7 linked regions of the Homo sapiens genome follow. Changing the gene in region 1 together with any one later gene gives a genetic interaction. Each region holds a gene or a part of one and is shown on either strand. Other genes may lie near its edges. The genes, in order: FGFR3, ERBB2, POMC, MAP3K4, CDC25A, CDK6 and PRKAR1A.

Region 1 (4,293 bases):
TTAATCCGGTTCCTTAACAAGATGGGCCGGGCAGTAAAAATACAAAGACCTCGTGAAATGGACTGAGGTCTAGGCTGGCGCTTGCCCGGGAACATAAATTATGGAGCCTTGGCTCGCAGGGGTCAAGGGCGGTGGGAAAGGTTTTGGCCACTGGACTGCCCTGGCCACCCCAGGCCCTGCCAGGACAGCCCCCATCTCCCCAGGGGGCCGTATTCCTGGTTGGGACCTGGAGTGACCCCCCAGGGTGCAGGGAGGTACACAAGGTCGGCTCTCCCACAGTCCCACCCCACCCAGCAGGGGTCTGGGGGTGCAGGGCCTTTCCCGAAGGTGCTGGCTGCAACCTCCCCCACTCCTCCTCTGCAGGGCTGGACTTTGAGCCGCGTGGGCCTCTGGGTGGTTCATTAACCTGGGCTGAGCCTGGCCTCCAGGTCCTTGTGTGAGCCTAGGAACCCCTTGTTACCCACCCCCCAGCTCCCCAGCCCTCAGGTCTCACTTGGGGCTAGATCTGGGGCTGTGGCACCCCTTGTTACAGCTGAGCTTGAGTGGGAGCCCAGGGGCTTGGGGTCTCCTGGAGGACGGGGATCTAAAGTCACCTCATCTAGGGAGGCATGCAGCCCTCACCTGAGTGATTCAGGAGTGAATGAGCCAGGAGTGGAGCCACCTTTGGTGGGGTAGGGGTCAGCCTGGACCTCTAGGCTGCCAGCTCAGGCTCGGGTGCCCTCTTCGAACCTCAGTTTCCTTACCTGTCCAAGAGAACCGATAATGGCAGGCTGTTTGAAGGATTAGGCCAGATAACCCTGGCAAGCCCTCTTTAGCCTGCCCAGCCTCCAGATCCCTTTTTTCCGGACTTTATTGTGAAACTCCAGGTGGGGAGACAGGGAGGCTGGACTTTTGGGGGCCCCCTCCTCTTAGGCTATTTTATAGCTCCTACCTGGCAATACCTCCTGTACCCCAGAGAGCTGCAGAGAACTTCATGTGCATCCGAAACCAGAATGTGTTGTTTCCTGACCCCAGGCCCTCATCTCACCCCAAAACCCAAATAAACCCCTGGGGCAGCCAGCTCCGGAAGCGAGTCTGGATTTGATCCTTGTTCTCTGGGGTCAACCCGAGGGGCTTATGATGGAGCAAGGCTCCCCCATCCTCTCAGCCATGCTCCCTCACATGCACTGGGCCTCCACTGCAGAGACCCAGAGCCTGGAGAAAGGTTCCCCAGGCCAGAGTTTGGCCGTCCCCAGCACCCTGCCTAATGGACATCAGTCTTGGGGCCAGAGACCCAGGGCAGGGAGCGCCTCTCACCCCTACCCTCACTCCTGCAGCCATTTCAGGGCCTGGTGCCCTCCCTGAGCTCCTGGGCCTGTGGGGTGGGATTTTTACTTTGTGCCACAGTGGGGGAAACTGAGGTACAGGACCAGTGAGTGGCAGAGTTGTGGAGACTCTGGGACACAGCAGAGGGCTGTCGTTGGCATGTGGAGCCCAAGTTGAGGTCGGCACTGTGTGGGGTTGGGGCGCCGGCAGGAGCACGTGTTGTGGGATCCATAGAAGGGTGGGAGGTGGGACGCGTTGCCTCCTACCCCGCCTTGGGTACAGCAGGAGTTTTGTCTCCAACGTGTTTGGGCACCAGTGTCTGTGTGGTGTCAGTGGGGCCTCCCTTTTGTGGATCAAGAAAGAAAGAACCCTTCCTAGGGCTGCTGGGGGGCTATAGCTCTCCCCATGCCTGGCAGCTGGGTGGGGTATGGGGGCTCCACCCAACTGCTGACTTCCCAGTGGGAGTCAGACCCTGAACTTATAGCACCCACTCATGCCCCGTGTCACACTGTCCTTCACCTGGTGCTCGCCACCCAGCCCCTGCTGGGGTACCCTGGCCTCTGCTGGCACCTAGCAGGCAGGCAGTGGGGGGGGCAGTCAGGGCTGCACCCTCCCCACCACACACGGGCAGATGGCCACTGGTGTGGCTGGCCTGGGGCTGCTGTGTCCCCCGTCCCCCCGTGCTGGACCAGGCTGAAGCAAATACTTGTGTGGATGGCTTGACCTGTTGTCGCCACTCAGACCAAACCGGAACCAACCGGCTGTTGCCCTTGGGCCAGGGCCTGCAGCTGAGGCTGCCATAACCAGCCTGTTCTCGGCCTTCTGGGGGGCCTCGAGCAGCTCCCAGCTCTGGGTGGTCCCCACAAGACACTGGCCAGGACCGGAGGGCTGGAGGTCAGGCCAGGAGCCCCCCTGACTGCGGGGTCCCTACAGGGGCAGTCCTTGAGCTGTGGGTCCCGGTGGGGCGAGGGCTCCTTCGGATGCTTCAGGGGATGAGTGTGGGCCCTTCTGGCTGGCAGGGTCACCCTGGGCACTAGGCGTGTGTGGCTGGATCAGGTGGGTTGGGCAGAAGAGGGCCTGGCCGGGCAGCCAGGGACTGGTGTGGCCAGAGTGGGCAGCTGGGCCCCCGAATCTAGGCCACGCGTCTGCAGAATGACAAGTGATGGCGCAACCCGCCCAGCTGGGTCTGAAGAAGGAGGCTGCCTGGGGGACCACCCACCCCCGTCCCGGCCCCAAGCCCGGGACGCCTGCCTGCATGCATTGTCTGGCCCTGGCAGGGAAGCCTAGGGGCGATTGTCCCCCCAGCCCTGCCCATGGTGTGTCCTTGGGTCACAGGCTTTGGTGGCTCTGGGGAGCTGGGCAGCTACTGGGGAGGGACCCAGGGGCCACCTGCACATCTGCCCCTGTGGGTGGGCCCCCACCCCAGCTTCTCAGCCCCCAGGGAGGGGCCAGGGCTGCTGACCTGCCCTGGCTCTCACAGCTTCCTGCCCCCAGCCTGGTCGTCCTCTGTGAGGGGGCCCCAGTCCCCCTGCAGGCAGCAGGACTCCACCCCCCGGCCCCCTTGAGGGCCCGCCTGGGCCTCCCCACTCCCCGGCCTGTGAGACCCACTTGGCCGGACCCAGCGCCGTGTTTGTACTTTGCTCTTCTCGGTATGTTTTCCGTCATGACCGCCGTGTGGAGCTTCCATAGGAGCTGCAGGATACAGAACCTTGCCCACCCCAAGGAGCCCCCACCCCCGCCCCGGCCCCCTCGCGCTGCTCCGGCCTGTGCTCTGACCGGTGAACCCGCGCATCGCCCCCCAGACCGTCCACACGGCCACGTGACCCTGCACCTCCTTCCTTCTCGCCTGTTCTGTTCCCTGGCTGTCCATCTGAACTGCTTTTCAGGCTCATATGGGGTGCGGGGGCTACTGAGGACGGACCCCTCCTGGGGTGAATCTGCACCACGAGGGGGCTGGCTGGCCAACCCTGGCACCCCCTCTGAGCTCCATTTCAGTCAGAGGCCAGCAAAGGGCAGCCTGTCCCCTTTGCCCGCAGCACCTGCCCGTCGTGGTGCCGCCTGTGAGACAAGCATGGATTTTATGTTTCCAAGCAATTGAACAAATTAAAAGAACGAAGAGTCACATTTTGTGACACTTTGAGATTTGAATTCTCCGTGTCCATGAGTGAAGCATCATGGGGCCACTGCTGTGGGGTTGGCTGCAGGTTGTGTGGGGAAGGCGGCTGTCACACCGAGGCAGACCGGAGTCCTTGGGACAGACTGGTTGGCAAAGCTGAAGATAGAGACCTTTGGCCCTTTTGGGACACAGTTTCCAGCCCCTGGTCTGGTGGGACCCTGGATCTGGGTCAGAGCCTTCCTCACTCAGGGCCGCCGAGGCTTCCACTGCTGTGTCTGTAAACGGTGCCGGGTTTGGGGGTGCCTGCCTCATGGTTGCCCATCTTCCCCACAGAAGTCCCGGGCCCAGAGCCCGGCCAGCAGGAGCAGTTGGTCTTCGGCAGCGGGGATGCTGTGGAGCTGAGCTGTCCCCCGCCCGGGGGTGGTCCCATGGGGCCCACTGTCTGGGTCAAGGATGGCACAGGGCTGGTGCCCTCGGAGCGTGTCCTGGTGGGGCCCCAGCGGCTGCAGGTGCTGAATGCCTCCCACGAGGACTCCGGGGCCTACAGCTGCCGGCAGCGGCTCACGCAGCGCGTACTGTGCCACTTCAGTGTGCGGGTGACAGGTGAGCTCTGGGGCCACGCCAGCTACAGAAAGGAGCCGAGTGCCGGGCTCCCTGAGTCCCTGCGTGGGTCAGGAGCGGCTGGGGGTCTCTCTGGTCATTGGTGGAGAGGAGGGCACCCCCAGGAAGTGCTGCCCAAATGGGGGACCCTGCCCCATCTGGGAGGGGCACCTGGGGGCCTCCTGGGGCAGGTTGGGCATTGGTTGCGGCCATCTCTGCCTTGCAGACGCTCCATCCTCGGGAGATGACGAAGACGGGGAGGACGAGGCTGA
Region 2 (4,977 bases), on another chromosome or scaffold:
CAGCCTCCTGAGTAGCTGGGACTACAGGCACCCGCCACCACACCTGGCTAATTTTTTGTATTTTTAGCAGAGACAGGGTTTCACCGTGTTAGCCAGGATGGTCTCGATCTCCTGACCTCGTGATCTGCCTGCCTCGGCCTCCCAAAGTGCTGGAATTACAGGTGTGAGCCACCGCGACTGGCCAGATTCAAGATTTGAACCCAGGTCCTCTTGGTCCCAGAGGCCCCTGTTTCTCAACTCCCTAGGATGGCATAGCAACCTGTCCCACAAGAGGTGCCTGCTTTAAGTGTGCTCAGCACATGGAAGCAAGTTTAGAAATGCAAGTGTATACCTGTAAAGAGGTGTGGGAGATGGGGGGGAGGGAAGAGAGAAAGAGATGCTGGTGTCCTTCATTCTCCAGTCCCTGATAGGTGCCTTTGATCCCTTCTTGACCAGTATAGCTGCATTCTTGGCTGGGGCATTCCAACTAGAACTGCCAAATTTAGCACATAAAAATAAGGAGGCCCAGTTAAATTTGAATTTCAGATAAACAATGAATAATTTGTTAGTATAAATATGTCCCATGCAATATCTTGTTGAAATTAAAAAAAAAAAAAAAAGTCTTCCTTCCATCCCCACCCCTACCACTAGGCCTAAGGAATAGGGTCAGGGGCTCCAAATAGAATGTGGTTGAGAAGTGGAATTAAGCAGGCTAATAGAAGGCAAGGGGCAAAGAAGAAACCTTGAATGCATTGGGTGCTGGGTGCCTCCTTAAATAAGCAAGAAGGGTGCATTTTGAAGAATTGAGATAGAAGTCTTTTTGGGCTGGGTGCAGTTGCTCGTGGTTGTAATTCCAGCACTTTGGGAGGCTGAGGCGGGAGGATCACCTGAGGTTGGGAGTTCAAGACCAGCCTCACCAACGTGGAGAAACCCTGTCTTTACTAAAAATACAAAAAATTAGCTGGTCATGGTGGCACATGCCTGTAATCCCAGCTGCTCGGGAGGCTGAGGCAGGAGAATCACTTGAACCAGGGAGGCAGAGGTTGTGGTGAGCAGAGATCGCGCCATTGCTCTCCAGCCTGGGCAACAAGAGCAAAAGTTCGTTTAAAAAAAAAAAAAAGTCCTTTCGATGTGACTGTCTCCTCCCAAATTTGTAGACCCTCTTAAGATCATGCTTTTCAGATACTTCAAAGATTCCAGAAGATATGCCCCGGGGGTCCTGGAAGCCACAAGGTAAACACAACACATCCCCCTCCTTGACTATCAATTTTACTAGAGGATGTGGTGGGAAAACCATTATTTGATATTAAAACAAATAGGCTTGGGATGGAGTAGGATGCAAGCTCCCCAGGAAAGTTTAAGATAAAACCTGAGACTTAAAAGGGTGTTAAGAGTGGCAGCCTAGGGAATTTATCCCGGACTCCGGGGGAGGGGGCAGAGTCACCAGCCTCTGCATTTAGGGATTCTCCGAGGAAAAGTGTGAGAACGGCTGCAGGCAACCCAGGCGTCCCGGCGCTAGGAGGGACGCACCCAGGCCTGCGCGAAGAGAGGGAGAAAGTGAAGCTGGGAGTTGCCACTCCCAGACTTGTTGGAATGCAGTTGGAGGGGGCGAGCTGGGAGCGCGCTTGCTCCCAATCACAGGAGAAGGAGGAGGTGGAGGAGGAGGGCTGCTTGAGGAAGTATAAGAATGAAGTTGTGAAGCTGAGATTCCCCTCCATTGGGACCGGAGAAACCAGGGGAGCCCCCCGGGCAGCCGCGCGCCCCTTCCCACGGGGCCCTTTACTGCGCCGCGCGCCCGGCCCCCACCCCTCGCAGCACCCCGCGCCCCGCGCCCTCCCAGCCGGGTCCAGCCGGAGCCATGGGGCCGGAGCCGCAGTGAGCACCATGGAGCTGGCGGCCTTGTGCCGCTGGGGGCTCCTCCTCGCCCTCTTGCCCCCCGGAGCCGCGAGCACCCAAGGTGGGTCTGGTGTGGGGAGGGGACGGAGCAGCGGCGGGACCCTGCCCTGTGGATGCCCCGCCGAGGTCCCGCGGCCGGCGGGGCCAGAGGGGCCCGGACGAGCTCTCCTATCCCGAAGTTGTGGACAGTCGAGACGCTCAGGGCAGCCGGGCCCTGGGGCCCTCGGGCGGGAGGGGGCAGTTACACGGCAGCGGCTCGAGATGGCCCATCCAAGAGACTGGCGCTTTCCAGGCTCCGAGGGGCTCCGGGAACTTGTCAAAGAAGTTCTCTGAAATTGTTCAGAAAGTTTTCCCGCAAAGGGTGTATTGCGTAGAGCGCGCGCGCGCGTTTCCCCCCTTCTTGAGCCCCCTCAAGCTTTCTCAAAGCCTTTCCAGTTGGCAGCCTCCGCCTCCGGACTGGCCTGGGCTGGATTCCTTGGGGGGGTCCTCTGCCCTGCCCCTCCTCCAGCCCCTCCCCGCTCCCCTTCAGACGATTTTGGTTTGGTTGCTCCTGCTTCTGGCGGGGTCGGGTGTGTGTGTGTGTGGTGGAGTGGAGGGTGGCATAGCAACCTGTCCCAACCAGAGCCGGGGAGGAAAGGGTGGCCCGGAGGGTGGCCTCTTGCTGGGGTCTGGGTTGGGGGCGGGGGAGACGTTTGCTTTGAACAGATTCTTGGGGCCAGCTTAGGGACTGTGCTCTGTGACTTTTGGAGCGCGTGGACCATGGAGGGGTGGGGGTGGGTTTCTTGGGGTGTAAAGTGGGAGAGTTCCCAGAGAAGGAAGCTAAGAAATAAGGCCAGATGGGAGCCTAGGGAGGGCTGCGTTGTTCTGCTGCCTTTTCCTTGGTGCTGTGCGTGGGGAAGGGTGAGTGGGGGCAGTGTGTATCCTGACCCATCTGTCCACCTGTGTGCATTAATCATAAAAGCTAACATATAGCCTGGGCCAGGTATACTCTGCCAGGAACTGTTTGTGGTGTTTTGCATGCATTCTCCTTTAATCCTAGAACACCCCTATAGTGGAAGTTCTGCCAGCATTCTGGACTGAGTAGCAGTCCAGAGGTTGAGTAGCAGCTAGTAAGTGGTGGGGTCAAGATGGGACCCCAGGCAGTGCGACCCCCAACCATGCATTCGAAATCGCTATATGGATGAGTGCACCTGGAGCAATGAGGGACACTGCTCCCTGAGTCACTGGGCTGCAGGGGAGACAAAATGAAAGTGTTCTGGGAGTCGTGGGTGGTCTCCATAGGTCAGAGGGTCTGGGGAGGGAGTGGGTGTCATCGTGGCTGTGTGTTGCCCGAGGGGCCCTCTGTGAGTGAGTGCATGGCCGTGTTATCTCTGCAGGTCTACGCCAGGGTGTTCCTCAGTTGTGTGGTCTTTGTATTTGTGTGTCTGGGCTTTGTGTTGCCAAACAGCAGTCTCTCTGCTGACTTGGGGACACAGGCTGAACTCTGTCCTCTGCAGGAACTCCCTTAAGGTGCTGGGCCAGATCTGCCATAAACAGAGGGAGGTAGCCTTCTATGGCCACGCCTTCTTGCTGAGGAAGAAGGTTCCTCTCTTCCAGGGAGTACATCCTTGCCCTCCCTGTTTCCCAGACAAGCATCTTCACCTCTCATCTTCTGATGAGAAGGGTGAGGCCATACTGAGCTGTCAGGCTGAGCTGCTGCCCTTCCTCACCTTGGGCTGGGAGTTGATCAGGGAATGGCAGTTGCTGCAGAGCTGGATTTGAGGGCTGGGTTCTCTGGATGGGGCCTCCTCATGTCCTCACCCCTCAACCTGCACTATTGATTGTGTTGTGCAGGAGTTAGTTAAAAAGTCATTGCACAGCCTGGGCAACAAGGCAAAACTCTGTACAAAAAATACAAAAATTAGTTGGATGTGATTACACGTGCCTGTAGTCCCAGCTACTCCGGAGGCTGAGGCAGGAGGATCACCTGAGCCCAGGAAGTTGAGGCTTGCAGTGAGCTGTGATTGCAAATGCTCTCCAGCCTGGGTGACAGTGTGAGACTCCGTTTCAGAAAAAAAGTATACCACCCAGCTGCCTCCAGCACCCAGATTTTACCCAAGGGGTGAGGTCTGGGGCAGGAATGTGGGGGAAGGGGAGGCCTAGGGGGAGCCCCAGAGGGGTCAGGATTTTTCTGAAATCCTTTCTTAGAGGTATGGGTTTTACAAATTGCAGCAAATACATCCTTTTAATCTTGCAGAACTCCTTCATATTTTAATTCCAGTATGATTCTTCCAACAGCCTCCTCTCTTTACTATACTTGGGGAAAGTACTCATTTTATTTGTCAAGAAAAAAACAATTGAAAAGATAGGGATCAAATGTAAAAAGAAAAAATACGTGGCATTCCAAAGTCAAACACAAAGCATGTTTAATTTTCTCGTGGTTTGGGATTACCCATATTCCTGCTGTATGAACCTGTCTTGTCTTAACTTTTAAGAAATGTACGGTGTACTTCCTATATGCTAGGTTTTTATCCATGCTTTCATTTAATCTCTGTGACAGTCCTGTGAAGTAGGTGCACAGATGAGAAAATGGAAGTTCAGAGAAATGAAGCAACTTATCCAAGGCTCCCAGCTACCCAGTAATGTCCAGGGAATTTTTGGACTCTGAAGAGGAGGCATTAAGAGGTGGTTAGAGTCTTATTCCAGCCAACAATAATGGGTTGAACAAAGCCTTAGGGGCAGGCAGGTGGCCAGATGGGAGGAGAAGCGCTCCTCTTGTTCAGGCGAATGACCTTTCCATCCACTTCTCTAGGCTGTAGAAAGTGGAGCTGAGCTGGGGGCCCTGAGGTTCCCTCTTGACTTCAGAGTCCTCTCCCTTCCTGTCCAGCCAATGCCTGTCTTCCTTTTGGGCCCTACCAGCATGACAGGGGGCTGCGGGCAGGAGGGGACAGAGGCCACGTTGACACACAGGGCTGTGGGTGAGAGAGACAGCTGAAGTGTCAGCGTGAGGGGCCAGTGTGGGGCTGCGGCTGGGAGGGCTGGGGTGGGGCCCAGGGTAGTTGTGCCTGTCCTTGGGTGATGGAATGATCTGGAAAGAGATTCCTTCCCTGCCCTCCACCTGTG
Region 3 (3,404 bases), on another chromosome or scaffold:
GGTGAAGATAGAATGAGGTCCTCAAAGACACAGACCAGTTTTCATGTGTAATATAAAATAGAAACAAAGAGCCCAGGGGATTCTGTGAGTTCCAGTTTGGAAAGACCCAAGAGTCTCTTGACTTGAGACACCCACAGCACAGCTCACCAGGGAGGGTGCACTGGACACAGTCAGGACCCATGGGTTCTAGACCCAGTTTTGAGGTGTGGGACCTTGACCAGGTCCTATCACCTCTCTGAGTCTCCTGTTTCACTATCTGTCCACGGGAGGGGAGTGTAAATTAGTTTTTTCCATTGTTAACGTTCCACAGAGTTGTAATTCTGAACACCTGGAGTAGGCAATGTCCAGCTCAACAGAGTGGGTAGGATCCTTTTATTTTCTCCTTTGCTATTCCCAAGAAAGAGAGCAGCCAGTGAGCTTTTCATCTTTTTATCACTGAAAACTCAAGGCTGCAGCCTATGCAGCCATTTTCCTAAGCTAATATGTACCACAATAGAGTCCTCTAGGGACAAGGAGCAGAGACACAGGTTCCACAGACGGTGCAATGGAAATAACGCTAGCTTTCCACCCCTCCCTCCAGTCAGAATGAGATTACAGGGAAATAAGCTTGCCCCAGAGCTCACTGGGGGATCTCTCAGAAATCAGCTCAGAAGTCGTGAAAGAACCAAGGTGCAGTTTTGGAGGCTTAGTGCAGAGATGGAGCTGGGGTAGGGCATAAAGTAGGTTTTTCATCACTGAGGTAAGGTTGAGGCATTATTTTTTATTTTTTGTTTATTTATTTATTTTTTTGAGACGGAGTCTCGCTCTATCACCCAGGCTGGAGTGCAGTGGCGCGATCTCCCCTCACTGCAAGCTCCACCTCCCAGGTTCACACAGGTTGAGGCATTATTAAAAATATGTTTAAAAATATGGGCCCTAGTAGCCAGACTTCTATCACCTGGAGAGATTATCCCCCAAATTTCAGCCCCACTCCCCTCCTGGACTTGAATTAAACCATATGTATTTATTCAATATTCTTTTTATTTATTTATTTATTTTTTTGAGACGGAGTCTTGCTCTGTTGCCCTGGCTGGAGTGTGGAGTGCAGTGGTGTGATCTTGGCTCACTGCAACCTCTACCTCCCAGGTTCAAGCGGTTCTCCTGCCTCAGGCTCCAGAGTAGCTGGGATTACAGGCGCCCGCCACCACACCCAGCTTATTTATTTATTTATACTAGAGATGGTATTTCACCATAGTTGGCCAGGCTGGTCTTGAACTCCTGACCTCATGTGATCTGCCTGCCTTGGCCTCCCAAAGTGCTGGGATTATAGGTGTGAGCCACCGTGCCCGGCCCTCAATATTCATTAAGTGCCAACAACTACCACCCGTCTGCCTTTCTTGGAGCCACTCCTTTATGTCAGGCATATAACAGTAAGACTTTGGTCCTGTTCACAAAAGCTAGGGGTGGCTAGATGGCTAGACAAACCATGGAATGGGATGGGAAGTGTGTTGCAGTTGCCAGGCAGAAGCATGAAGGGGATGGGACAAAAGAGGCAGTGGCAAGATCTTAGATGCCCACGAGTGCCAAGAAAGCAGGTGGGCAGACCTGCTCTGTAGGGAGGCCTCGACGCTTGACACGCCCGACACTGTGCCCTGTGTCCTCGGCACGTGGCGAGGGCGGCCAGGGCCTAGGCGCAGTGACGGGCGCGGCAGCCGGGCCGGGGTGCGGGGCACGGGCTGCCCTCATGCCCTCGCGTCTTCCCCCAGGAGTGCATCCGGGCCTGCAAGCCCGACCTCTCGGCCGAGACTCCCATGTTCCCGGGAAATGGCGACGAGCAGCCTCTGACCGAGAACCCCCGGAAGTACGTCATGGGCCACTTCCGCTGGGACCGATTCGGCCGCCGCAACAGCAGCAGCAGCGGCAGCAGCGGCGCAGGGCAGAAGCGCGAGGACGTCTCAGCGGGCGAAGACTGCGGCCCGCTGCCTGAGGGCGGCCCCGAGCCCCGCAGCGATGGTGCCAAGCCGGGCCCGCGCGAGGGCAAGCGCTCCTACTCCATGGAGCACTTCCGCTGGGGCAAGCCGGTGGGCAAGAAGCGGCGCCCAGTGAAGGTGTACCCTAACGGCGCCGAGGACGAGTCGGCCGAGGCCTTCCCCCTGGAGTTCAAGAGGGAGCTGACTGGCCAGCGACTCCGGGAGGGAGATGGCCCCGACGGCCCTGCCGATGACGGCGCAGGGGCCCAGGCCGACCTGGAGCACAGCCTGCTGGTGGCGGCCGAGAAGAAGGACGAGGGCCCCTACAGGATGGAGCACTTCCGCTGGGGCAGCCCGCCCAAGGACAAGCGCTACGGCGGTTTCATGACCTCCGAGAAGAGCCAGACGCCCCTGGTGACGCTGTTCAAAAACGCCATCATCAAGAACGCCTACAAGAAGGGCGAGTGAGGGCACAGCGGGGCCCCAGGGCTACCCTCCCCCAGGAGGTCGACCCCAAAGCCCCTTGCTCTCCCCTGCCCTGCTGCCGCCTCCCAGCCTGGGGGGTCGTGGCAGATAATCAGCCTCTTAAAGCTGCCTGTAGTTAGGAAATAAAACCTTTCAAATTTCACATCCACCTCTGACTTTGAATGTAAACTGTGTGAATAAAGTAAAAATACGTAGCCGTCAAATAACAGCAGCATGGATCGGAGGAGCACAGTGGTTTCCATGCGGTAGGATATTTCACAGGACTTAGTGAGCGTGAAAGGAAAATGTGCTTCCTGCCCCCACCCCCAAATGGATCTTCGAGGGATCAGATAGTTTGGGTGAAGGCACAGGGTGGCTCCAGCACCTCTAGGATGGCCGTATTTTCCACACACTCCACTGAGTGGGAGACTGCTCAGCTAGCACACGTGTAAAGGCAGGATTCCTGCAAGAGTGACCCCGGGCGCTCAGGGGCTCCCCGGCTCCGGTCCACCTCCAAAAGCCAGTTGGACAGGTTGAGGCCTACCCACGCCTGGGAGTGCTCTGGACTGTCAGGTGAGAAGTCTTGGTAATGTCTCCGGGGAACTGCTCGTAGCAATCCATGGGACCTTAGGCAAGTCTCTGAACTTCTCCAAAATTTAGTTCTTTCATCTACCCCTCCCTTCCCAGTATGAGGGTTATTGTGAAGATTAAAGGAGAAAATGGACATAATCTTCTTTTTATCATAGAAGCTAAGTGTGAGAGCTGAGGGTTAGTATCAGTTCCAATTTCACTCCCAGGCTACTCACAGATACGCTCAGACATACGGTCTCTCTCACACACACACACTCATGGAGACACACATCTGTTTAATACAACATACTCTACGCAGTTGCTTCTTCCAGCCCCTAGGGCTTAAGCCCTGACTCAGGCCCTCTGACCCCTCCTGCCGTGCCCAGGCTCCTCCCTCCCCGCGTGTTTCAGCTCCAGCCC
Region 4 (4,293 bases), on another chromosome or scaffold:
TTCAAACCTCACCTTCTGTCTCTCCAATTCTGTGTTTGTTTTTGTGCTTCTAGAATGATCATTATAATACATCTGATTGCATCACAGATCTACTTAAAATACTGCAAAGATTCTTCATCTCTTAAGAACAAAAGTAATAAAGTCTTGATTTCTTAATGTTTTATATAAGGCCCCTCATCTTATTTCTGTCTTATTCCTACATTTTCCTTCTTCATATGCTGCTCCAATACACACACACATGCACACATACACACACACACTCACACACACTCTGCACTGGCAGTACTGAACTACTTGAAGTTCTAGGATATCTCAAAGATGTCATGCCTGCAGTCCCAAAGGGTTCTTCTCCGTGGTGCTGAATATCCCAGCTGTCAATGCCCACTGAAGCGTGTTGCTGTGTAGGAGAAGCTTTGCTTAAAAATGACTTTCTGATTAGATGGTTGTTGGCCTGGTATCCCTGAGATTGGCATTGTTTTTGGACTGGTGTTGAACTAGAATAACAACTAGTAACTGGGTTGGTTTTTATGTCCTGTGCTTGATTTTCCTCCCAGGTGGATAATCTTTTACTAGTTGTCATGCAGTCTGCGCATCTCACAATTCAGAGAAAAGCTTTCCAGCAGTCCATTGAGGGACTTATGACTCTGTGCCAGGAGCAGACATCCAGTCAGCCGGTCATCGCCAAAGCTTTGCAGCAGCTGAAGGTATTACACTGTCCTCTACATTAGCTGAGATTTTTCCTTTTTGATGAAAGTCAGTGTGTGGTAATGTGTGTAAGGTAATATCATCCAAGGAACTTGAGCTCCTGAATTGCCTGCCCACTCACCTCTCTTCCCAATACATATTTTCTTATGTCTAAACTACATATTCTGAGATTCTTCCTGAAGCTGTAGAACTTTATAATTGGAAAGGATAGAGAATTGAACTTTATGTGACTTATTCATAATGGCTACATGACTGGTTAGTGGCAAAGTTGAAAATTTAATAATTTAGGTCTCTTCATTCCCAGTGTAAATTTCATTCTCCTTTCACAATCCCCAGTATTTACTAGAGGTACTCCATATCAGCAGTGTGTAATAGAAGATTTATTTATTGTTTTGTTTAATAAATAATTCAACCAAATTAAATATAATAGAAAAAAGTTGCAGAGAAGTACAAAGGCCTTTCAAAGTTTATGACAAGCCCCAGCCTGGCTGTCTTTTTCCATTATTTCCTGTTTTTGACACTTTCTATTTTGTATCCCATGTATCAGTCTTGATCTCATCCACACTTTTCCAGGCCATCAGTTATGTCTTCTCACTCACATTAAGGCTTAACTTCTTGAAGAAGAAACATTCTCTGAAGTTACAAGTCATTTCGTAAACACTTGTTTTTCTTCTGTTGGTCTGATTTGTCTGATTTATCTATAAACATTTATTAACTAAATATTTAGGTTATCTCTCTCTATGGATTGCTGGAAGAATATTTTGTAACCATAGTAAGGGGATTGCCTGATGGAGACCTTGTGTGCACTCGTGTGTAAGGGTGGGTAGAGAGAGAGACCGATTTGGAGCTATTGTGATGTTGCTGACAGAGGTGACAAAAGCTCGAGCCAGGGCAGGGCTTCTCAGCCTCTTGGATGTGGACGTTTGGGCCCGTAACTCTTGGTCGTGGAGGGCCGTCCTGCGCATTGTAGGATGTTTAGAGCTAGGGCAGGGCTTCTCAGCCTCTTGGATGTGGACGTTTGGGCCCGTAACTCTTGGTCGTGGAGGGCTGTCCTGCGCATTGTAGGATGTTTAGAGCCAGGGCAGGGCTTCTCAGCCTCTTGGATGTGGACGTTTGGGCCCGTAACTCTTGGTCATGGAGGGCCGTCCTGCGCATTGTAGGATGTTTAGAGCCAGGGCAGGGCTTCTCAGCCTCTTGGATGTGGACGTTTGGGCCCGTAATTCTTGGTCGTGGAGGGCCGCCCTGCGCATTGTAGGATGTTTAGAGCCAGGGCAGGGCTTCTCAGCCTCTTGGATGTGGACGTTTGGGCCCGTAACTCTTGGTCGTGGAGGGCCGTCCTGCGCATTGTAGGATGTTTAGCAGCATCCCTGGCCTCTACTCACCATATCCCAGTACTTCCACTTTTTCCTCCAAATTTTGACCATCAAAAACTTCTCTGGACAACGTCTCCAGACGCTGAGGGGAGGGGGAGAAATCTGCCCCAGAAGAGAACCCCTGGACTAGGGAGTAGCAGGGAAATGAGGACAGCACGATCGGAGGAGGTCATCTAGAAGTACATGGACTTTTTCACTCTGTGGAATTGCACCCGTACTTATGGTTGAGCAACCGTCCAGGAGGAGAAAACAACAGGTGGTTGATGTATAAAAATATTGAAGATAAAAGCATCTATTCCAAGAGCAGATTATAACTAGACTGTATCATTTTAAATGCATTTTTTTCTCTTCTATTTAAGAATGCCAAATAAAATGACATAATTTCTTCTATATTTGGTAATTCCTTTACCAAGTGGCTGAATTGTTTGTAGTGGTTAATGTCTGTGTGATGATGAACGAAATCTTCCTTTAAAATGTGGTAAGTATTGTATGATTTGCTTCATTTTGCATTAATCATGGTTTGGACTCTTCAGAATGATGCATTGGAGCTATGCAACAGGATAAGCAATGCCATTGACCGCGTGGACCACATGTTCACATCAGAATTTGATGCTGAGGTTGATGAATCTGAATCTGTCACCTTGCAACAGTACTACCGAGAAGCAATGATTCAGGGGTACAATTTTGGATTTGAGGTAGGTTCAAAATAAGAGGAAACACGGTACAATTTAGTAATTGCTTGATAACTTACAGAAAGTTTTTGGAACCTTTTACAGTAAATCTGATATTGTAATCATAGCTTAATCAAGAATATCATCTTATATCACTGCTGTATATCAGAGATGTTAGTTTACTTTTAAACTGTTAGGTAATTGTCCAACTTTTATTTTGTGCTAACAGCCATCTACTTACATTTTAAAACTTTAAAGAGATGTTTTATGTCATAAAAGCACATTCTTAATTTAAACTCAGGAGTAAAACATTTATGAAACTGCATTTTGAAACACTGTACTTTCCATAATTCTTCATACTATTCAAAATATAGAAATTTTAATTGGATTTCACTTTTTGTTTTTAGAAAACATTTTAGACATGGCATTATAGTGTGTGATATTATTTAATGATCATTTCCTTAATGTTGATATACATGAAATCTTCTTACAGTATCATAAAGAAGTTGTTCGTTTGATGTCTGGGGAGTTTAGACAGAAGATAGGAGACAAATATATAAGCTTTGCCCGGAAGTGGATGAATTATGTCCTGACTAAATGTGAGAGTGGTAGAGGTACAAGACCCAGGTAATGACCAAGTAGGATGTTTCTGAAATGTGTCATGTGGGCTTGGTGGTATTTGTTCATATATGTTCTGTGGGATTCTTTTTGAGCAGACGACACAGAAGGGAACACTCTAAACTCTTCGGTGATCAGGTTTTTTTTAATGGAAAAATATGTAGAGAAAACTGCGTAACTCTTGGGAAAAAATTTTTTTTTAAATTTGTTCCAAATTTGAGTTACCTTTAAGGGAACTCATGTTCTCCTTTGACAAGTCTTCCTGATGACTAATGTATTTTCCTCCCTCATGAAATTTATTCATTAAGAAACCATTTTGGAATTTGCAGGGGTGAAATGGGTGAATCGTCTGTGAGGCTCAATACTAGCTCCACTAAAGTAAACATAGTTATTAAAGTGTCATGACTGTGTGAGAAATAGCTGAGTGTTCTGTAATTTGTAATGGAGGGATAGCATGGGGCACTTTCTTAAAGTCATTAAGCAATTTCTCCAAGTTAGAGAAAACACATTTGCTGCATCTGAGATTCAAAGTAGGAACTTTGTGTTACAAAACTCATAAATACTTGTTGAATTACAAATAAATAATTGTTGAATTACAGATGGCACCTATCATGTCTAAAATCCTCTTCCATGCTTCCCATTGGTTTCAAAACAAAATTAAATTTTAAAAAATTATTCTCCTTTCCAAAAGGTCACGCTGTAAACTTACTGAACCCAAGCAAAAAAAAGTGTCTTGTCCTAAATAGTAATTATAATTATGTTACTTTTCAGTATTGTACAGTCTAAAACTGCTACAGCGTTTTCTTGGTTGTTATGTGATTACTGAACTTTTTCGTGTACCAGGTGGGCGACTCAAGGATTTGATTTTCTACAAGCAATTGAACCTGCCTTTATTTCAGCTTTACCAGAAGATGACTTCTTGGTAT
Region 5 (4,293 bases), on another chromosome or scaffold:
TTACTGTGTTGCCCAGGCTGGCCTTGAATTCCTGGGCTCAAGCAGTCCTCCCACCTCAGCCTCCAAAGTATCTGGGACTACAGGCACAGGCCAGTGCACCTGGCCGATAGTGTTTTGACTTACAAGTATACTAGAAATAATTGAATAAATCACCTTCTGGACATTTAGAATTTCCCTTCCCCTGATTTTCCTTTTATTTCTAATTAAAAATGAAATTCTGGGTTATAAGGGCAAGAACATTTGTGAAACTTTACATTGTATACATGTCAGAAAATATCTATCAATATTTAATAATATTCTGGCTGAGTGCTGTGGTTCACTCCTGTAATCCCAGCACTTTGGGAGGACAAGGCGGGTGGATCACGAGGTCAGGAGTTCCATACCAGCCTGGCCAATATGGTGAAACCCTGTCTCTACTGAAAATACAAAAAATAGCTGGGTGTGGTGGTATGAGCCTGTAATCCCAGCTGCTCAGGAGGCTGAGGCAGGAGAATCGCTTGAACCCGGGAAATGGAGGTTGCAGTGAGCAGAGATCACGCCACTGCACTCCAGCCTGGGTGATAGAGTGAGATTTCATCTCAAAAAAAAAAAAAAAAGAATATTCATTTTCTTTTTCTTTCTTTTTGAGACACGCTGGAGTGCAGTGGCAGGATCTTGGCTCACGGCAACCTCCGCCTCCCCAGTTCAAGCAAGTCTCTGCCTCAGCCTCCTGAGTAGCTGGGATTACAGGTGCCCACTGCCACGCCTGGCTAATTTTTTTTGTATTTTTAGTAGAGGCGGAGTTTCACCAAGTTGGCCAGGCTGGTCTTGAACTCCTGACCTCAGGTGATATATCCGCCTTGGCCTCCCAAAGTGCTGGGGTTACAGGTGTGAGCCACTGTGCCCGGCCAGAATATTCATTTTCTTTTACCGTAATAGAGATTGACCTTTTTATTTCCATATTTGTAAAACTTTTTTTGGATAAAATAATACTGTTAATAATTATTTTGTATATATATTGGCCCTCATGTTTTGGTTTATTTTCATATATTTTAATTTTTAGTATTTTAAATTCCATTGTGGAGAAAATGTCAAGCATTGCTAGAGTACAGTTATCATACCTGTGATATTGTGAAATATATATTTAGTCTTCTTCCCCTTCTGTCATATAACTCCTAAAATCTTTGGAATATCCAAGGTCATATCTTTTTGTATACTAATGATTGATAGCTTCAGGGTGGGACTGGTCACTGGAAAGACAGAGACATGATTAGAGGTTGGAACTTTCAGCCCCACCCTCCAATATCTACGGAAAGGAGAGGGGCTAAAGGTCAAGTTGATCACTCATGGCCAATGGTTTAATCAATCATTTCTATGTAATGAAGCCTCCCTAAAACCTTGAAAGGACAGGGTTCAGAGAGCTTCTGGATAGCTGAACACATGGAGGTTCCTGGAGGTTGGGGCACCCAAGGAGAGCATGGCAGCTCCATGTCCCTTCTCCCATACCTCACCCTATGCATGTCTTCTTCTATATCCTTTGAATATCCTTCATAATAAACTGGTAAATGTGTTTTCTTGAGTTCTGTGAGCCACTTCTAGCAAATTAAACCCAAAGAAGGGGTCATGGGAACCCCTACTTAAAGCTGGTGGTCGTAGATCAGAAGATCCAGAGGCCCAACTGGTGTCTGAAGGGTGGTGTGGTTTTGAGGACTGGGCCCTCAACTTCCTGATCTGACGCTCTGCAGGTAGATAGTGTCAGAATTGAATTGGACGGCACCCAGCTATTTTCCACTGCAGAACTGCTTGCTTGCTTGCTTGCTTGCTGGTAGGGAGAAATCCCCTCATATCTGGGGGTAACAGCACTTCTGTCTTCTGTTGCTGTTGAGTGAGGGAATAAGAAAAATCACTTTGAGTTTGTGGGGTGTTTTCCTCACACAAACATATCATACAGGGCTAAATTTCTGGGTGTTTTTTTGTTTGTTTTTTTTTTTGAGACCAAGTCTCGCTCTGTCGCCCAGACTGGAGTGCCATGGGTCGATCTCTGCTCACTGCAACCTCCGCCTCTCAGGTTCCAGCAATTCTCCCGCCTCAGCCTCCCAAGTAGCTGGGACTACAGGCGCCCACCACCACGCCTGGCTAATTTTTTATATTTTTAGTAGAGACGGGGTTTCACCATGTTGGCAAGGCTGGTCTCGAACCCCTGACATCAAGTGATCCACTCACCTCGGCCTCCCAAAGTGCTGGGATTACAGGCATGAGCCACCACGCCCGGCAGAGCTAAATTTCTTACTATCAAATGTCAAATATCCAGTCTGGGTTCAGTTTTCCCCAGTTGTCTCCTAAGTACTTTTACAGTTTATTTGTTAAAATCTGGATCCAAATAAAGTCTATACACTGTAGTTGGTCAATAGGTCTCTTACTCTTCAGATTTCAGTGCTCCATCTGTTTCCCTCTTGCATATTTTTATTTGTTGAAGAGCTCAAGTCATTTGTCCTGCAAAGGTTCCCACAGTCCTGTGGGGTCTTCAGACATTGTCTTCTATCCCCTATATTGCCTTAACCTAACTCTGGAAAGGATGGATTGAATTCCAGTTCTATTTGTTTGGCAAGAATATCACATAGGTGATTTTGTCTACTTTGATCAGGAAGTATAATGTGCCAGGCAGCCATTGGTGATTGCTGCCCAGATTTTTTACTTCATTTCACCAGGGTTTCAGAAAGATGATACTGCAGTTTTTACATTCTTTCCTCATTAATTAGCTAGAATATATCTATAAAGAGAAACTTACACTCATCAAACACTGTGGTTACCCTTGGGAAAGGCAGGATGAATATTGGATCTCTTTATTTGCCAGTTTCCAAATAATGCCCTACCAAGCATCTTCCAAAGTTGAAAGCAAGACTTATAGTTGTTTTTCAATAATAATCAGGAATTCATGGGTTAAAACATTTAATGTGTTTCTGTGTATTACAAGTATTATCCTTTTACTCAAATTATCCCCTTTTTAACAGCTGGCTTCCTCTTCTCATTGAATAAAGCTAAGACGTAGGCCGGGCGCGGTGGCTCACACCTGTAATCCCAGCACTTTGGGAGGCCAAGGCAGGCAGATCACCTGAGGCCAGGAGTTCAAGACCATCTGGCCAACATGGTGAAACCCCGTCTCTACTAAAAATACAAAAATTAGCTGGGCGTGGTGGCGCACACCTATAGTCTCAGCTGCTCTGGAGGCTGCGGCAGAATCGCTTGAACCTGGGAGGCAGAGGTTACAGTGAGCCAAGATCACTGTACTCCAGCCTGCACTCCACTCCTGTACTCCACTGCACTCCAGCCTGAGCGACAGAGCGAGACTCTGTCTTTTTAAAAAAAAAAAAAAAAAAAAGTTAAGACATACTTTTTCTAAACTTAATCCTAGTTTTAACCCCCCTTGTTTCTTTCTCTTTTTCTGGAGATAGTTTCAGTCTGTCACCCAGGCTGGAGTGCAGTGGCACCATCACCACTTGCTGTAGCCTCGACCTCCCCAGGCTCAGGTGATCCTCCCACTTCAGCCTCCCAAGTAGCTGGGACTACAGGCACACACCACCATGCCCAGCTTGTGTGTGTGTGTGTGTGTGTGTGTGTGTGTGTGTGTGTGTGTGTGTGGACAGGGTCTTGCTCTTTGATCTGGTCTGGAACTCCTGGGCTCAAGCGATTCACCTGCCTTGCCCAGGCTGGTCTGGAACTCCTGGGCTCAAGTGAGTAACCCACCTTGGCCTCCCAAAGTGCTGGGATTACAGGCATGAGCCAAACCACCTGCACCCCCTTTTTTTTTTTTTTTTTTTAAGGAAGGAAGGAAAACTTAGTTTCAGAGCAATTCGGTTAGACACTGGAATAATAGGAGACCTAGTCAATAACCCACATCTGTTTTTGTTCACTCCAGATTCAATAAAATAAAATAAAAACTTCTTACTAAATGTAGGCATTAACATTTTAGTCTCCTCGAGACATGCTCCAAGTGAATGTTTTCGGAAGTTCCATTCAGAACCCTTGTCTCATTCTCTACCTTTGATTTGTTACAGACTCTTCATCAGTCTTTATCCCTGGCATCTTCCCCCAAAGGAACCATTGAGAACATTTTGGACAATGACCCAAGGGACCTTATAGGAGACTTCTCCAAGGTAATTGCAAGCAGAGCTGCTCTGGCAAGTGTAGGAGGGAGTGTGGGTATTTAGAATCCCACTCAGCCTGTCTCCCTCCCCAGGGTGGTTCCTGGCATACCTCCAAAAGGACACAGTTAAAAGAATGTTAAAGGTAGGGAAGCAAACTTAGTTTCTCATG
Region 6 (4,293 bases), on another chromosome or scaffold:
AGGTCATGAGATGTTGGGCAAGATTTTGTTTTTTAAGTCGTTAACTCAGTGTTCATTGGTTCAGAATTCCAATTGTGTCTAGATATTGGAGATTTAAAAGAAAAGCCATTTGCTAAACAAAAAAAAAATTTAAGTAGCCTAATAAAATCTAAAGAATGGTCATTCTTATGTAGAACCAACTTACATCTATAGGCATCATACACATGGAATCAACGTTAGTGCAGTCATGTGGATTCATACTGCCTAACCCATGCTTTGGTATGATATTAACAAGCCCTTTTAATCTACTCTACCTTTAAACAAACAAGAACTAGACCTGTAGTATAAGTGCCAAAGTAACACAACTAAAACTGAATAATAATAATTATGGCATGTCCCAGGGTGAAAAACCATGCAGCCATTAAAAATCTCATTGTATAAAAAAAGTCATATTGCAGAATTTTATTAGTGGCAAAATGTTGATAATGAATTGTTACATGTTTTTAAAAGAGCTACAAAATAATGTGTACAGAATAATAACCACTTTTACTTAAATATACTTATACATCCAAATATAATAAAATACGTAATTTTTAAAAGACAGACTAAAAAGACACAAAAAAAGTTATATTAACAGTGAAGTTTTCTCTGTTCTCCAAGTAGTGGAATTTTTTAGTGATTTTTCTTCTTCTCTGGATTCTTAAAACATTTTATTAGTTTCTGCATTAAGCATGCATCTATACATCTTAGCAATTTTATAATTAAGAAAAACATAGTGTGTGTTATAACACAAATAAAAACGATGTGCATGTTTTTAAATTTGTATACTGCTAATTGGCTGCTAAAGTTGTTTGAACACTGCAGCATGAACCAAACAGATTTATTCTTTATACTGTTTTAAATGAGTGACACTTAACTGTATAGAGGCTAAAGATGATGAGCCAACAGGACATTACTTTAGGTTAGTCATGCTTTTTAAAATTCAGTGCTTACAAGTTGTGTGCATGTGTTTCCAATAAAGACTTATTTGCCAAAATGTTCCTTGAACATTTTGTGCTACATTTTCACACTCCTGTTTATTCATTACAACTTATTGGACCTGCAGTGCTTCTCAAGTCTTGAAGGGCTTTTCCTCCCCAATGCAGTCTTCTCCAGGGTTTTGGGAAGCTTAGAAGGTCACCCCTGCCAGTTCAGAATATTCACTCAGGGGGATCTCAGAAATGATTCTAGATCACTGCATACCCCCTCTAAGTGCTTTGTTCACACCGACCTTGTAGCAGTGGTCATGTTTTCTTTTAGTTGTTTGTGAATCAGTCTCCCCCAGAAATCAGGACACTTATCTTGGCAATAATCATCCTAATAATTACTGTTTGTCAAGTGCTTACCATATGCCAGAAACTGTACAAGCACTTGGCATACATTACTTCATTTAGCCCCCTTAATAGTAGGAAAAGTAATCGCTACTTTCTCCACTTTATAAAAGGAAAAACTAAGGCTTTGGTTTTGAACAAGCTAAAATATAAAGACAGAACTCCGAACTCTAAAGGAAGAACCAAAACCATAAACCAGTAACCAAATATACTGTTCTCGATGAGAGGATTCAGTGGTCCGGCCAATGATAAGTGTATCCTCACAGCCCCTTCCAGCTCTGAAATCCATGGTGGTACCCAGTCATTTTTCTAACCCTTGTATTAACAAAACAGCTCCATCCTCCCTTGTATACACCATTCTTATAATATTTGGGTCAGGGGAGTAGGTCACTCTTAATTTCCACACATTTCAGAGGATTATGACATCATGGCCAATGTCTTAGTTCCTACCTTCAGACACTGTCCCTGAGTATTAAATCTTGTGTATATTTGTATTGGTCCTAAAATTAGAAAAAGATCTGATATTGGTTTATATCCTGAATGATCCGCTCCTCCATACTGGTTAATAATAACAGTAATAAGCGCTGCCATTTACTGAATATTAACTATGGTGCTAAGTGCTTTACAATGATCCTATGATAAAGTGGGCTTTGTTACTGTCCCATTTTACAGACAGGGAAACTAAGCCTTAGAGAGGTTAAATGGCTTGCCTTATTTTACGTATTCATTTGTTCATTGATTTGATAAAGGAATACATTGGAGATTTGAATCGAGGTTTTCCAGACCCTAGTTTAAATCAAGACTCTGTTAATATTCTAAAACAGTTGATTAAGACTGGGCATGGTGGCTCACACCTGTAATCCCAGCACTTTGGGAGGCTGAGGCAGGAGAATAGCTTGAGCCCAAGAGTTTGAGACCAGCCTGGGCAACATAGTGAGATCGCATCTCTGCAAAAACTAAAAACATTAGCCTAGCATGGTGGCATGCACCTGTGGTCCCAGCTACTTGGGAGGCTGAGGCAGGAGGATCTCTTGAGCCAAGGAAGTCAAGTCTGCAGGGAGCCGTGATCACAGCACTGCACTCCAGCCTGGGCAACAGAGCAAGATCCTGTTTAAAAAAAAACAAACAGTTAATCAGCACTCTCTTGCTAGTATGACTTTGGGCTAATTAGTAGCCTACATCTGTGTATCAGTTTCTTGACCTGTAAAATGGTGTAATGATATTATTTACCTAAATGTTGTGGTGTGGATTAAATTATTTACTAAGTGGACAATGCTTAGAATAGTGCTTGATATATAGTGAGTGTTTAGTACTAGGTGCTATAAAATAATAATCACCATTAATAACAATATTATTATTCACTGGATTTTAATTGTTGAAATGGCACATTAAACAATAGAGAAGCAAAAAGTGTCCCCTCACGACCTCCTCCTTCCTCTCCCCAGCATGAGCCACTGAAACCAGTTTGGCAGATATCCTTCCAGAATGTTTCCTATTCCATCAAAAACTATTTTAAAATTGTCCTTTCATTAATAAAATACAGGTTGAGAGTGAAATTTTTTGCAGTGTTCTTGAAAGTGTGGGAGTGGAAAGGCAGGAAGGGAGACAATTCACTCATTCAGCCAATACCTGTCAAATGCCTGCCGCATGCCAAGCAGCCACAAAATGCTAAGGATTCGGCGTCCAGCATAGCAAATGCTCAACTTCCGTTTTGAGTGTTTACTGATTTTCTTTTTTTAATTTTATTAGGATATGATGTTTCAGCTTCTCCGAGGTCTGGACTTTCTTCATTCACACCGAGTAGTGCATCGCGATCTAAAACCACAGAACATTCTGGTGACCAGCAGCGGACAAATAAAACTCGCTGACTTCGGCCTTGCCCGCATCTATAGTTTCCAGATGGCTCTAACCTCAGTGGTGAGTGAGAGAGTGCTGTCCTTTTATTAAACTTATTTTTCCTATTTTGAATGACAGTCTGTCCCTCTTCCATGTCTCTAATGTTAGTACTGCCCATGACTAGTTGGTGGATAGAATGTCTTTGCCCATTTTTATATGGCAGTGGGTAGGCAGAAAGCATTCTGCTTACAGCTACAGTCACATCCAGCCTGGGCTTGTTGTGGACAGGATCCATTGCAGAAATAGCCTGTTGCATCTTAGCCACTGGACAGGAATCAGTTACAAGTTTCCAAATGCTTTCTGCCATAACCACTGTTTTCAGAGCTGTATGTACAATGCCTAGGGAACACACAGCTCAAGGTCAGGGAAGAAAGAGCACGAGCAACGTTGACCTGTCTGCAGCATCATGGTTTTGAGAAACAGAGTGCCTACACAGGTTTGTTAATGCACTCATCTGAAGCTATGGTGCCAGCTGTAAAGAAGAAATCAAATTCACAGTGAACTTGGATGATGCATGAACGTAGAGCACCGCCATGCCAGGTGAAGGCTCATATAACCCTGAATAGAAAGAGCGAACCCAACGGCCCTGTTTTGGCAAAAAATAACAGTTATGATACCCTGTTTCTTTTTGCCATTCAGCTGCAAAACCATAATAGCTATTGACATTGGTTAGCTTCTATTTCTCCATATAGTTCATTATTTCTCAGATGGATTTTTGTGAAATTCTGCACCCCAAATACAAAAAGAGCAGCCTGGAAATAGGTATTAATACCCTTCTCTTTGAAAGACCTGTTTTGCATACAGTAAATTCATGCCTTACGTACAGTAAATTAAATAAATAATATATAGCAAATTAAGTCTTAAGAAAAAGAATTTTAAAAAAGAAAATATCTTTGTATATTCAAAGAAATAAAAAAAAATAATCCGTATTGTCCATCTTTAGCCTCAAAGTGGTTCTCACATCAGGGACAGCATGGCCCTGTTGTTAAGTAATGATTGGCAACATCTTTGGTCATTCTGCACAGCAAAAAATTGTTTCCCTAAATTT
Region 7 (4,293 bases), on another chromosome or scaffold:
TCTTGACTTCTGTGCACCCACAGGCCCAGCACCACTTGTAAGCCACCAGGGCTTGGGGCTTGCACTCTCTGAAGTAATGGCCAGAGCTGTACCTTTTAGCCAAGACTGGAGCTGAAGCAGCTGGAACGCAGGGTACCATGTCCTGAGGCTGCATAGTACAGGAGCCCCAGGGCATGGCCTAGGAAACCATTTTCCCCTCCTAGGCCTCTGGGCCTATGATGGGAGGGGCTGTCCTGAAGGTCTGTGACATGCCCTGGAGACATTTTCCCCATTGTCTTGGTGATTAACATTTGGCTCCTTGTTACTTATGTGAATTTCTGCGGCAGGCTTGAATTTCTCCCCAGAAAATGGGATTTTCTTTTCTATTGCTTTGTCAGGCTGCAAATTTTTCAAGCTCTGCTTCCTCTTGAATGCTTTCCTGCTTAGAAATTTCTTCCACCGGATACCCTAAATCATTTCTCTCAAGTTCAAAGTTCCACAGATTTCTAGGGCAGGGCCAAAATACTGCCAGTCTCTTTGCATAGCGAGAGTCACCTTTACTCCAGTTCTCAAGTTCCTCATCTCCATCTGAGACCACCTTAGCCTGGACTTCATTGTCCATATTACTATCAGCATTTTGGTCAAAGCCGTACAAGAAATCTCTAGGAAGTTCCAAACTTTCCCACATTTTCCTGTCTTCTTCTGAGCCCTCCAGACTGTTCCACCCTCTTCCTGTTACCCAGTTCCAAAGTTGCTTCTGCATTTTTGGGTATCCTTGTAACAGCACCCCACGCTCTGTGTACCATTTTACTGTATTAGTCTGTTCTCATGCTGCTAATAAAAGACATACCCAAGACTGGGTAATTTATAAAGGAAAGTGGTTTGACTCACAGTTCCTCATGGCTGGGCAGGCCTCGGGAAGCTACAATCATGGCAGAAGGGGAAGCAAACACATTCTTCTTCACATGGCAGCAGCAAGGAGAAGGGTCAAGCAAAAGGGGGAAAAGCCCCTCAAAACTGTCAGATGTCATGAGAGCTCACTATCACCAGAACAGCATGGAGGTAACCACCCCTGTGATTAAATTACCTCCCACCAGGTCCCTCCCACAATATGTGGGGATTATGGGAACTATAATTCAAGATGAGATTTGGGTGGGGACACAGCCAAACCATATCAGTCTGAAAATACAGTCATATTCTCATCACCTTCTTCGTCATTACTGGGGGGTTGTGTTTCTGTTACCTTCAACTACTCCATAAGAAATGTACCAAAAACTCTTGACAGTTGGTCTTTTGAAAGCTTCTGCATTTTAATTCAGTCATCTGGAATTTGAGTCTTCTTTTACTCTTGTATTTATTAGACCCTTAGGTAAGAGGAATTAAAATAACAGTGACCTTGTGTCTGCTGTGTCAGGTACTGTGTGAAGCACTTTATATACATAAATACTCGTTATTTCAAATGTACGAGGTATGTGATTTTCAGCATTTTATAGACATAGCAGTAAAACTGAGAGAAATTAAGTAATGTGGCTGTGGTTATAGACTGTAGTCGTCAGCTTTTGCTGGAGCAACATACAACCCCCAAATTTCAGTGGTTACTACAACAGACCAGTCATGTGCAGTTCTTCTGGTATCAGCCTGTCTTATGTTCTTGACACCACATATCTTGTTCTGGGGCTGAGCAGAAGGAGCAGCCCTATATAGGGCATGCTGTTCTCAAAGCAGAGGGAGGGCAGAAGCTCAAGGTGGACAGAGCCAAACCACACAGGCAACCATGGTATGGCATGTCCACTTACATTCCATGGCCAGAGCAAGTCCTGTAGCCAAGCCTTAAGTCAGTGGGGTGGGAAGTATACTTTACCCACAGGGAAGAGTGACAGAAGCAGGGAGGGAACAAATAATCGGGAAAACATAGTAGTGGGGACAGAATTTGAACCTAAGAGTCAAGAAGATAGTGCAGAATTTAATGCAAAACCGAATGCAGAATTTGAACCTCAGAGTCAAGAACATAATTAACCACTGAGTAGACTGGGAGGTTTTTTCTAATTTTTAATTTTTTATTGATATATAACATTTGTATGTTTTTATGGAGTACATGTGATATTTTACAGGCATAGAATGTGTAATGATCACGTCAAGGTATTTAGGTTATTCATCACCTCACTTAAAGAGCTGAGGAGGAAGGAGACTGACAGAAGGATGACAACAGCAAGAGAAAGGATATAAAAATATATCATAGTATATACTAGAAAACTCATGATCTGAGTAATGGCTCTGAGTTGTCAGATTAGGTTATATTCAGATTGCTGTTTTTAAAAGACTCACTAGAATCCATGAGACACTGCTAAAATCAGAATGCTTTTGTTACTTCAAAATTAATCTTAAAAATTCAGTGAAGTAGAATGTAGTCCCAAGTGAAATGTTATTTGTGAAATTTTTCCTGAAATTTTTGTGAAATGTCAGTGACAAATTTGGGGGTGGGAGAATTTGTGTTTTCATTTATACTCTTAAACTGTGTGTGTGTTTTATTTTATTTTTATTATTATTTTTTTGAGACAGTCTTGCTCTGTCACCCAGGCTGGACTGCAGTGGTGCAATCTCGGCTCACTGCAACCTCTGCCTCCTGGGTTCAGGCGATTCTCCTGCCTCTGCCTCCTGAGTAGCTGGGGCTACAGGTGCCTGCCACCACACCTGGCTAATTTTTGTATTTTTAGTAGAGATGGGGTTTCACCATAATGGCCAGTCTGGTCTTGAACTCCTGACCTTGTGGTCTGCCCACCTTGGCCTCCCGAAGTGTTGGGATTACAGGTGTGAGCCACCATGCCTGGCCTATTTTTTGAGACAGGATCTCACTCTGTTGCCCAGGCCTGAGTGCAGTGGTGCGATCATGGCTCACTGCAGTCTCTACCTTCCAGGCTCAGGTGATCCTCCTGCCTCAGCTTCCCAAGTAGCTGGGACTACAGGTGTGTGCCACCACGCCCAACTAATTTTTATGTGTTTTTGTAGAGATGAGGTTTTACAATGTTGCCTAGGCGGGTCTCGAACTCCTGGACTCAAGTGATCTGCCACCTTCGGCCTCCCAAAGGGTTGTGATTATAGGCGTAAGCCACTGTACCCAGTCATGTATTCTTAAACTTTAAACTTGGGAGAGACTTGAGTTTTATACCTGTGTTAATATGAAATGAGAAAACCTTACTGGTTATTGGAACAACCAGAATTAACATGAAATGAGTTTTCTAAAAACCATATTTTAAAAAGTAGGTTACATATTCACATATTTCAAAGTTGTGCAGGTACAAAGGGGCATAATAATGAAAGGTCTCCCTCCCACGCCATTGCTTTTCTTGAATGCTGCCAATGTTCTGGAGATTAATATATGGGCACTTACAAATTTATATATAGAAAAGAAATAACGGGTCAAATGAATGAGAAAGTAGAAGATAACACATTTTTATTTTTTCCCTTTTACTTCAGGCACAACAACTAATTCTTTAGATCTGAGAGGAATTTGTTTTTAAGGCTCTAGATGTGAAAAAAGGAATGTTTAATAGTTTATCTTAGGTTTTATTTGAATTGGTCCAATAAGTAGTTTTTAAAAGCAAGTAAACTCTTTTTGTCTTTTAACTTCAAGTTTAAACCTTGATTACAAAGAGTGATCCTAGCTCTGCTGGGAGAAGTATTATAGATACGATCTCGTTTAAATTCGTGGTTACCATCACATCATTTCATTATTTGTTTTTATCTGGGATCAAACTGGAATGTGAATTCCACAGGCTCAGGACCCTCTCCTATTTGTTTTTAATTTCCTGTTGCCTAGCATAGGTCTTGGCCTGGCAGATCCAGAAAATGGCTTATTGAGTTAATGAAATAACTCAGTAATCTAGACATTCTTGGATCACTATGTTGGGCTTGAATTGTTTTTCCTGATAACATTTCTTTTGGCAGGAGGGTCTCTTGCTATCTGCAGTAGCATCCAAAAAAACCCAATTTTCAGGATTTTGTCTTGCAGTGTGTTACTGTTGTGTGCATCACAGATAATTGTTGTCAAGACATTAATGAATATCTGATTTGTTACTCACATGTTATGTGAGTACTAATGGCTTGTACTAATGACTTTTGCCCATTAATAAAGGATAGCATCTGTTATCATCTGAGGTACATTCTGTTGAGAGTGTTTCAAGTGTTACTCTCTTTTTTTCCCCTTTGGAATTGGTGTTTTCCTCTTAACTTACATTGTTAATGGAAGAAGAGATTGGAAGTGACTGAGATAGACTATCATTGGAACATGAGAGTGCCAGCTTTACATGCCGAAGG

The links.
Region 2: changes in FGFR3 (region 1) and ERBB2 together harm fitness more than expected from each alone (negative genetic interaction), as found in Homo sapiens cells (one large-scale study listed by BioGRID).
Region 3: changes in FGFR3 (region 1) and POMC together harm fitness more than expected from each alone (negative genetic interaction), as found in Homo sapiens cells (one large-scale study listed by BioGRID).
Region 4: changes in FGFR3 (region 1) and MAP3K4 together harm fitness more than expected from each alone (negative genetic interaction), as found in Homo sapiens cells (one large-scale study listed by BioGRID).
Region 5: changes in FGFR3 (region 1) and CDC25A together harm fitness more than expected from each alone (negative genetic interaction), as found in Homo sapiens cells (one large-scale study listed by BioGRID).
Region 6: changes in FGFR3 (region 1) and CDK6 together harm fitness more than expected from each alone (negative genetic interaction), as found in Homo sapiens cells (one large-scale study listed by BioGRID).
Region 7: changes in FGFR3 (region 1) and PRKAR1A together harm fitness more than expected from each alone (negative genetic interaction), as found in Homo sapiens cells (one large-scale study listed by BioGRID).

What each region holds. Positions count from the first base shown.
Region 1 is NC_000004.12:1,795,500-1,799,792, forward strand, and holds part of FGFR3 (fibroblast growth factor receptor 3 isoform 1 precursor), read left to right. Parts: intron 1-3,754; coding exon 3,755-4,024; intron 4,025-4,247; coding exon 4,248-4,293.
Region 2 is NC_000017.11:39,698,376-39,703,352, forward strand, and holds the start of ERBB2 (receptor tyrosine-protein kinase erbB-2 isoform a precursor), read left to right. Parts: upstream 1-1,688; 5' UTR 1,689-1,863; coding exon 1,864-1,936; intron 1,937-4,414; exon of another isoform or gene 4,415-4,539; intron 4,540-4,977. UniProt on the Homo sapiens protein: Protein tyrosine kinase that is part of several cell surface receptor complexes, but that apparently needs a coreceptor for ligand binding. Essential component of a neuregulin-receptor complex, although neuregulins do not interact with it alone.
Region 3 is NC_000002.12:25,160,094-25,163,497, reverse strand, and holds the end of POMC (pro-opiomelanocortin preproprotein), read left to right. Parts: intron 1-1,745; coding exon 1,746-2,417; 3' UTR 2,418-2,638; downstream 2,639-3,404.
Region 4 is NC_000006.12:161,088,768-161,093,060, forward strand, and holds part of MAP3K4 (mitogen-activated protein kinase kinase kinase 4), read left to right. Parts: intron 1-554; coding exon 555-704; intron 705-2,611; coding exon 2,612-2,773; intron 2,774-3,242; coding exon 3,243-3,376; intron 3,377-4,210; coding exon 4,211-4,289; intron 4,290-4,293. UniProt on the Homo sapiens protein: Component of a protein kinase signal transduction cascade. Activates the CSBP2, P38 and JNK MAPK pathways, but not the ERK pathway. Specifically phosphorylates and activates MAP2K4 and MAP2K6.
Region 5 is NC_000003.12:48,167,686-48,171,978, reverse strand, and holds part of CDC25A (M-phase inducer phosphatase 1), read left to right. Parts: intron 1-4,034; coding exon 4,035-4,133; intron 4,134-4,293. UniProt on the Homo sapiens protein: Tyrosine protein phosphatase which functions as a dosage-dependent inducer of mitotic progression. Directly dephosphorylates CDK1 and stimulates its kinase activity. Also dephosphorylates CDK2 in complex with cyclin-E, in vitro.
Region 6 is NC_000007.14:92,724,599-92,728,891, reverse strand, and holds part of CDK6 (cyclin-dependent kinase 6), read left to right. Parts: intron 1-3,098; coding exon 3,099-3,266; intron 3,267-4,293. UniProt on the Homo sapiens protein: Serine/threonine-protein kinase involved in the control of the cell cycle and differentiation; promotes G1/S transition. Phosphorylates pRB/RB1 and NPM1.
Region 7 is NC_000017.11:68,518,431-68,522,723, forward strand, and holds part of PRKAR1A (cAMP-dependent protein kinase type I-alpha regulatory subunit), read left to right. Parts: intron 1-4,293. UniProt on the Homo sapiens protein: Regulatory subunit of the cAMP-dependent protein kinases involved in cAMP signaling in cells.